Linked DNA regions of Homo sapiens: regions 1 and 2 are each reported to be linked to region 3. The links are microRNA targets in miRTarBase. Many come from high-throughput screens and were not tested one by one. Region 3 holds a microRNA gene; each other region holds the end of a gene's coding sequence.
Evidence for each region. Region 3 holds the annotated microRNA hsa-miR-7154-5p (UUCAUGAACUGGGUCUAGCUUGG, at 1,592-1,614, opposite strand). A microRNA usually pairs through its seed, bases 2 to 8, with sites in the 3' UTR of a target mRNA and lowers its output. Matches are read on the target gene's strand: a 7mer-m8 pairs with bases 2 to 8, a 7mer-A1 pairs with bases 2 to 7 and ends in A, and an 8mer does both.

Region 1: the mRNA of NBPF3 is a reported target of hsa-miR-7154-5p. Seed matches in the 3' UTR shown: 7mer-m8 at 1,338-1,344.
Region 2: miRTarBase lists C5orf22 as a target of hsa-miR-7154-5p. Seed matches in the 3' UTR shown: 7mer-A1 at 1,301-1,307.

What each region holds. Positions count from the first base shown.
Region 1 is chr1:21,482,787-21,485,786 of GRCh38, reverse strand. NBPF3 (NBPF member 3) reads right to left here. Exons shown (of 15, transcript NM_032264.6): 15 at 887-2,644. The coding sequence ends at 2,401. Among named protein-coding and RNA genes, the nearest start is that of ALPL, 25 kb to the left of the region's middle.
Region 2 is chr5:31,552,376-31,555,375 of GRCh38, reverse strand. C5orf22 (chromosome 5 open reading frame 22) reads right to left here. Exons shown (of 9, transcript NM_018356.3): 9 at 323-2,603. The coding sequence ends at 2,474. Among named protein-coding and RNA genes, the nearest start is that of C5orf22, 22 kb to the right of the region's middle.
Region 3 is chr11:45,690,163-45,693,516 of GRCh38, forward strand. MIR7154 (microRNA 7154) reads right to left here and starts at 1,614; the gene lies at 1,542-1,614.

The sequences.
Region 1 (3,000 bases), not on the chromosome of region 3:
GGGGAGGCATGGACAAAGGAAGCATCCGCTGGAGACTCATGGTGAAGAGAACAAATGAAGTAACTGGCAGAAATTATAGGTCCTGGTAGAACAAAATAGAATCCCACAACGAGAACATACACCATGTATGTCCCGCAAGGAAGACAATAGCTCCTAAAAACACAAGAAAAATCATTTTGGGCAAACACCTTATATCCAGTAATGCGATCCATGTATCAAGACCGTGAGGAAGATTATTAAACATGCTAAACTCAGCGAGACCTGATTCCCTCATGAGGACTCTGTTAGGATGAGTACCACTCAGCAAGTGATGACTGTGACATTCACTTTTGAACAGCTCATGAGCATTAATATATTTAATTGTGGATCTAAACCAAAAACCAAGGTGTGGGCAAGATGACAACCACAGAATGTCACTGGTGTATGTTTAGGTTCAAATACGATTATGAGAAGTGGCAGGTAAAGGAGGTAGGAAAAAGAAAACACATCATGTAATTGACTGTCATATGGAAATATGTGATGTTGAAAGTCATAATTTAAAACGTATAAACCAAATATTAGAAGTGTGTCTAGTTCAAAGGGGGGAAAACTATGAAACATTTTTAGTCAATATCAAACATGAGCTACACAACCCTTCCTAAATGCCAGAGGCACACGCAGACACACACACACACACTCTCACAAAGAATATAAATATCTAGAACCAAGAAATGGAGTACATGCATTCTGCTACATATGGTAAACATAGCCTACAAGGTGGAAGAGATTAGAAAATAAACAGGGAAATGAAAATGTTTTTATTAATTCGCATCAGTACCCACCAAAACCAATCAGCATAACAAAAGATTATAACGCTGAATGTAAAAAACAATCCAACAGTCCAGAGTGATAGGCAAAAGTTTTTAATTGTATAGATTAAAATAACTTTGGACAAAAATTAAAACTCAGGCAGAGAATGTTTTTTTTTCAACAACACACACTAGCAAAAACAAAGGCACAGTAAACATTGAGGCAGCAAATTTCCAGCGTAGAGATATGAATATAATAATAGACACAGGCAGGGATGATTAATAAATGATAAAACGTTTAGAGGATGATCACTGGAATACAGGACATTTCTACTTTGAAAAACCACTCTCCCAAATACTTCATCATAAGTAAGGTGTCTCTAAAAGGGACAGATCTCCTAGACCCCTCCTTAACCAAGTAACCAGTCCTGATATCATGATAATGCTGATGGACAAACTAGACCTTCTCTGCCCACAGATGGGCTGAGGTTGGAAACTCACAGTATCGACTCTGTAGTGTTCTTGATGAAACGTTTAGGCTGAATTTAATCATGAAGACATTTTCAGACAACTTCAGAATGTAGACCATTGAGCCAGACAGCTGACCTGTCCTCTACAAACAAGTCCATGTCACCAAAATCAATGACAACAACAAAAAGATGAGGAAATATTTGGGGTTCAAAATAACTAAAGAAATGTAGCTACATTATCATTTACTTCTTCTGAACCCAAAATATCTCTCCTCCTTTTTGTTGTGTGATTCGTGGTGACGTGGACTGTGTGAAGGAGACAGGTCAGTTGTCCTGCTCAGTGTTCTACATTCTGCAGTTGTCTGGTGATTACCTCCTATGAAACTCAGGCTAAGCATTTTCTGCAAGAACATGGCATTGTTCATATTCTGCACTGGCAGAGTCCCAGGTGACATGCTGTCTCTTGCCAGCGGCTCCTGACTCCTGTTCTTTACAGGATGGAATTGAAAGGAGCAGGACTAAGGCCTCCCAATGCTGTTTGTCCGTCTAGCTGTGGTCTTCCTAAGTATTGATATCAATTGGAGGCTGAAGGACTATGGCTTCTCTACTCAAAGGAGCCTAGTGGGTTAACAACTGTCAAGAGCAGTCAGTGGTTCTGAAATACAATCCTCAGCCAAGGATCCCTCCTGTGTTACAGATGGATCAGCTAAAACAAACCAACACTGAAGATACAAAGAATGGGGTTAGGTTCAATGAAACCAGGGTAACACCTTTGGATGAGCTAAACACAAAGATGACACTGACCTTGAGCAGGTATAGAAGCTCAGAGACATGCCTGCAAAATGAAACCCCTGAGGAACTTTGTAGCTACCCAGAGATATCTGGTTCAAATTAGAATGTCTGGCAGATCACTCCCGGCATGTGCTACATAGTCGTGTGAACGTGTCACACCTAACTTGGGTCCAACGTCTTCAGACTGAGCACAGGTGGCCACTGGCATGGTCTGAGAATAGGAATAGAGCCATGCCCACTTTCCCATCCTATGACTGGGCTTCCAAAGGGAACTACAGTTTCATTCAAACCTACATGTGCCTATACGTCCTGCCTGCAGCAATGACATCTCTCAGCTTAGTAAGGGCTGCTTAGTGTGGGAATATGACTCCCATCTGGAAGGCCAGGTGGTGCCTTATCACTGTCAAAGTAAAAAACCTATTGTCCACGTCAAGGGCCAAGCTGACGTCCTGTTCCTCAAATGAGTAAAAGGCACTTCTATACTGCTGGAATGAGGCATGTAGTTGAAAGTAAGTTGAAGTAGTCGAATAACATCTATCCAGTGAGTCCTGCAAGACTTCAGGCTCTTCTGCTTCCATCAGCACCTCGTTGAGCCTGGAAAAGGAGACAAAACTAAAGAAGCAGCCAGGGAAAATCAGACACCACAGAGCCCCAACTAGATTTCAGGGGTAACATAAGGAAGTGGTCAAAAAAGGAAAAGGATAGTTCCATTAATGAGGTAAAAAAATTATTGCCTTTATGTTGGGATAGAACAGGGCCAAGTAGAAAACAATGAAAGAGAAAGACAGAGAGTGAGAGAGAGAGACAGAGAGAGAGAGAAAGTGAGCTCAGTGAATTGGCCAGGTGACACATTGATGAGGGAGTAAAAGGACACTGTGAGTTAGTGCCCTCAGGACACACAGCAAACAGTGATCATGAGAAGAGTGAGCTCAATAGTTTTCCATCAAGTG
Region 2 (3,000 bases), not on the chromosome of region 3:
GTAGCTGGGACTACGGGTGCTTGCCTACACGCCTGGAGAATTTTTTTTTTTTTTGTATTTTTGGTGGAGACGGGGTTTCACCGTGTTAACCAGTATGGTCTCGATCTCCTAACCTCGTGATCCGCCCACCTCGGTCTCCCAAAGTGCTGGGATTACAGGCGTGAGCCACCGCGCATGGCCAACTATAGGAAATGTTTCTAAAGAGATCTAAAATTGACAGTCAAAAGGTTATTATGAAAGGCTGGACTTAAATTTTTTCCCCGTAGATACTAGGAAATACACAACTTATTAAGTTAAAGTCTACGCTTACACTTAAGTCACATTTTTTAAAAAGCCACTAAAATCCCATGCTTTAATGATATTAGTACACAATTCAAAACACTGTACCACGGTATCCCCTCACTGGTACTCAGAACACAAATGAAACACATCTTGATAAAGTAAATACCTTCCTATTTGGAATGTGCAAGACATAATTTACTAAGTTGATTCTTTTCAACTATTAGGGACTGAATTTTATTCTCAAAGAGATGATCACAGAACATGAGAATTAAACAAACCTTCCTATAAAAGAAATGGATGCTTTTATTCAACCTGAGTTAAAACCACAATGAATCATATCAGAGTTCATGGGAATCATAATAAATGACTAGTAAACCACTCACAAAATCAAAGCTATCAACATACTAGGATCACACACATTAATTAGTGCTATAGTTCAAAACATACCCTTTAACTTATTTAGCACGCAAAATAATCATAAAAGTAATGTCTATAAGCTCTAACCAAAAATTTTAAAAATTAAAAATAGCACAATTCTACAATTCTGATTTTACCAAGAAAATAAACCTTTTTTGGCACATATTATCCTATGAAAATGGAAAGCTGAGTCAGGCTGCTCTGCTTTTCACAGCACAAATAAGCATTCATGCTATCAGACTTGGGAAATTAACTCGGTGACAAAAATTCACTGGAAAATAGAATCCTTGGAAAAATGGGGTCAGGTGCCATCCACTGTGAGGCAATGATAATGTGTGTCCTTCGTTATTAGCACAAAGTTAGGCAGCACACTATAATTTTAGCTACATGCAACTCTATAGGAACACATGTGGGTAAGGCCTGAAAGTTACAAGCAAGAGTGAAAAGAACTGCTGTGTTGGGACTGAGGAATGATGGGTGTTTGTTTTTCTTTAAATGTCATTTCACCTTTTAAAGGAAAATAAATCAAGTAGGTAGGTAAAAATTACTGAACTAAAGAGATACTAAAGATCAGAAGACTGGCCAATTGAGAAAATCAAGTTTCATGATTAAGAGTGACTCAGGAAGGATGTCTTAGTTATGAGGGGGGTGGTGGAAGACAGTTTATATCTTTGGGTATTTATGGCAGGTCAGAATTAAAGATTTAACTTTTTCCCTTACTCTTTACATAAAAAGCTGGTTTATCTGAAAAAAGTATCAATCTAGACTTGGCAATAAAGTGGCACTTAGGCACTATATTATTGATATCTACAATGACCTCCTGGATGCACAAGAGACCCTGAAGGGCTTTTTTGATCAGCAAAACAAAAACAGAAAAGCAAAAAACAGTTAATTTTTGTTTGGTCAAGTTTACTCAACCAGACCACCTTGATACCAACAATGCTGGAGAGCATTTGGCAAGAGCAGGGCCACAATGCCAAATTCCTTGGAAAGGTAGACTTCCTATGATACTTTCATGGATTGGCAAATTTGTGGGGTTTTTTTGGTAGTAGCTTTTGAGAATGTTAGTTTCTGGCTGGGGTAGTGACTTACATCTGTAATCCCAGCACTTCGGGAGGCGAAGGCAGGTGGATTGCTTGTGCCCAGGAGTTTGAGACCAGCCTGGGTAACATGGTGAGACCCCATCTCTATTTTTATAAAATTAAAAAAAAAAAAAAAGATAGAGAATGTTACTTTCCTATAAAGCCATGATACCCTAAGTACTAAGACATGTCTGTTGTTGTCCTTTCCTTCATAACATTTCTCATAACCCGTAATTTACTTCTCATCTGTCTCCCCTAAAAGGGCAGGGGCCTTGTCTATTCTGTTCATTACCATATACCCAGCACTTAATAATGTCTGGTACATGTAAGTGTTCAACAAATATTAGTTGAATGAATAAATGAAGTATGAATGAATCTCATACAGCTCAACAGACCTGGGGGAAAAGTGAAGACAAACAAACAAACAAACAAAAAAAAAAACAAAACCCTAAAAAATACTTAAGGAAGACAGATAAGCAACAGTTCTATCAGTTGGGGTTATGAGACTTGATGCCAAAAAATTTACCATCATTCACAACTGACAATGGTTGTTCAGAGATTCAAAATATCTGAAAGATTTCAACTGAAAGTTAATATAAAACAGTGTTCTCTGGAAGACTCATGTACAAATAAGTTAATTAAGGGCCTGTTACTAAACCAAGATACAACAGGAGCCTAATGTTTTGTTTGTTTCAAGATGGAGGAGACTCTGCTGCATACACTTGGAGGTCTAGATTTCCATAGAGGGCACGTAGCATATTGAGGACCTTTTCTTGAATAGTGTCAACTTGGTCAGAAGGACAGTAATCATCCAGACTTGACCTAGAACCAACAGAAAGAGAAAGAAGAAAAATACACATAGGATAAAATCATACTGTGAGGAAAAGCTGCATGTGTTCATTTCAATGTAAAACAGAAATTAAGGTGTGCTGAACTTTGGATTAATATCAATTGAAAGCTAGTGAAGGTTTACCCCATGTTAGTCACCTTACATAAATTATGTTCTTTAATTTTCACAGCAACTCTATGAAATAGGCACAATTACTATCCCTTTAAAGAAATCTGAAAGAGATTAACCTGTGCAAGGTGACATGCGGTGTGTGCCTTAATGCTTGATTGCTAGACCATTGTTTGCCTGAAAGTGAGATGTTGCTTGGGAATACAGGGGCTTATTATCTTAGCGATGGAACATCTTTTATTATGTGTGTGCTAGGGCTAG
Region 3 (3,354 bases):
TCTCTTCCTTATTTAAAGATGTTTTTACCCTTCTGGACATTCTACAAGTTACTTCCTCCTTCTTTTGTTCTCCTCTGTCTTTGCCTCTTTTAAAAAGTTCTAAGTTACTAACCAATCAAAACAAATATAAAATATAAAGTCCTGTTCCAGCCAATAAAAACCAGACACAGCAGTAAGGTGGACACGTCAGGTTATAAATGACCCTGTCTCCTTTGTTCAGTATACTCTCATGACAAAACTACTGACAAATATACCATTTCTACAAAAAATAAAAATGTCCTTACTAAAAAATTAAATGTATTTTCAAGTACTATTTCTTTATAACACCGAAAAACAAGTATTTCTAACATCACAAACCACACACTAGCCTGGATTTGTTTTTGCATCCCAAGCACTATTTCAGGTACCTTCAATTGCCATTGGTCACCTAGCTTTCAGAATTTATTTTCCAAAGCTAAGTCTGCCATGACAGGTGCTAAGGTATCCCTTTGAAATTCTTGGCTTTTCTAGCTTGGGGTAGTTAGACAGCCATCATGTTTCAATTCCTAGATTGCTTTTCAGGAAGTTTCTAACAGATCTCAGTTTGCATTTCTAGGTGGTCATTTTACAAGTTCAAACTCATATTTTTCATTGCTATTCCTTATACAGAGCTAAAGTGCTATGGGGGCTTTCTAGAAAAGTGACCTTTTAAAATGGAGTCTGGATCTCATTCTTAGCAGAAGCATCAAGGGAACACCTTCATAGCATTGCAAGGTCAGTGACTTAGGTCAGCATCAAACTCCCCACTTCCCATGCCCAGGCCTAACTTGGACTCACTCCCACCTATGGGACCCTTGCTCTTTTTCAGGAACTGGAAAGGAGGTACCCCTCAGATACAGGGCCACAGGCAGATAGATTTAACCTCTAGATTCATCCTATGCCTCATGAGGCTGAGGCAGGTCCCTCCACTGGGCCTCAGTTTTCCCTAAATGTGTAACAGAGTGGGGTTTGGGCCACATGATCTCTAGGTCCTCTTCTGGCTCTGTGCTTCTATGACTTGGATTAAGAGAGGCAGATGAACACCTCAATAGAGGAAGACAGCCCAATTTTTAAAAATCAGATTGACTTTTGCCATTCAGGTCCATTACCCCCTCCCTTTCCTATAGCTGCCAGCTGTTCAAACCCTCTAAACCCTAACCTCTTTAGGCAAACCAAATCTTGCCTAGATGGCTGCAGGGTCCTCTGAGACACCTAAACCCTGCGAACCTTGACCAACCCTACCCCACCCTGCCACCTAATTGAAAGAGCCTCAGGAGCTCCACTGCCTTCAGAACCTAATTTCTCAGGACAAAGACGTGCCCTTGAGGATGTGGCCTCTCCTCACCTTGTTGGGTGCACAGATACCAGCCTCCAAATATTCGCAATTCTCTTTTTGATCCCTCTCTCTCTCTCTCTCTCTCTCTCTCTCTCTCTCTATTGTCCTAACCCATGTTCCAGGTAAGAAAAAATTCTTCTCTATCCTAATGAGGGTGTTGCAGACACTCCACCTGTGACCCAGCCCCATCCCACAACTTGTCCTCCTATCTCCTCAGCTTGCTTCCCTACCAAGGCTCCAAGCTAGACCCAGTTCATGAAGGCAGAGAGGGTAGGTATCAGGCCGAAGTTGGTGGGTTCTTGCTCAAGGTTGGTATTTCAGAACTAAAATCTGCAAGTACATTTTTCCTTTTCTTTTTCTTCTTCAGACCCCTGATCAGGAGGTGAGATTCCTTACACTTGGCCATACAACAGGATGAAATCCTGCCATTTATGGTAACATAGATGATCCTGGAGGTCATTATGCTAAGTGATATAAGCAAGGCACAGAAAGACAAATACCACATGATCTCATTCCTATGTGGAATCTAAAAAACTTGACTTCATAGAAATGGGGAGTAGAATGATGGTTACCAGAGTAACCCTTAGGGGAAGTGGGAGAGAGGTATACGAAGAGAGATTGATCAACAAAGTATAAAGTTACAGTTAGGAAAAATAAGTTCTGGTGTTCTATTACACAGTATGGTGACTATAGCTAACAATAATGCATTGTATATTTCACGATAACTAGAAGAGAGGATTTTGAATATTCTCATCACAAATAAATTATAAATATTTACAGTGATGGATATGCTAATTACCCAATTTGATCATTATACTATGTATACATGCATTGAAACATCACACTGTACCCTATAAGTATGTACAATTATTATATGTCAATCATAAATAAAACTTTTTAAAAAGAAGAAGTTAAGATTCCTAGAGGAAACTTCACCTCACCCTTTCTACCCCTACCCAAGCCAGTAGCCAGAGCACCTCACAACCAAGTTCCCAAAACCCATCTCCAGAATGACACGTGGGGCCTTATCCTCTTCAGGAAGAACAAAATGAGCCCAGGCTTCCCCCTTAGGACCGCTATAATGTGTTCAAATGTTTTCCGTCGAAGAAACTAAGCTGCACAGAGGTCGAGACTTGCCAAGGTTATACTGCCAGTTAGCAGCCAAGACCAGACTTCAAACCCAAATCATCTGACTGTGAGGGTTCTTTCTTGGCATCCAACCCAGATTAGAGGAAGAGCTTATTTCTCTGGTTGCTGTGGGGGTGTACCCCACACTCAGGCTCCCGCCGGGATTGCCACAACTGTCCCTGCCGAGTCTGGCTGCCTCCAGGGATCTAAAACCAGGGACTTTGTTACCTTTTGTCCCTTGCTGTCCTCATAAGGTACTGATTGACTGATGGAGGCATGACTGGAAGACTGGCAGAAGCAGAAAGCAAAACTATGTCGCCCCCTGCCATGCGCCTGTACCTCTGTCTAGACTTCACAGAGGAAGGAGGAAGTCATCAACCCAGGCTACTCACCACTGCCTCTCACCCTTCCTCCCTCACGTATATTCCATTCAAAGACTGTGGATTTCCCCTAGGTCGACTTGAGAATTTTCTAGAGTTCCCAGTAAGCTGCTGAGGATGAATTGGGGGTTGGTGGAAAGGTCAGAGACAGACCTGAACAGCTCTCTTCCTAAGAGGCACAGGCAATCACTGGGCCTCGCCCGCCCCAGGTTGCCTGTTCTCTTCACCACCAATAAACTAGAGGGACCACGATCTCACAGAGTCTGTGAATAAAGTCATTCGGCAAAGGTCTGGTGGGCAGTCATCCTATACCAAGTACCAAGAAGATGCAGAGAAGTCTAATGCCTCCTGAACCCGCCCATCTCCTGTTTTGGCTATTGTCTGTTCACCCCAGTGCATGGGTATTGACAATCATTTCTTAAAGGAGTCTTCCTTCATCCAGTACTGTCCATGCTTTACAATATAAAACCCAAATCACCCCTCACACCTGAT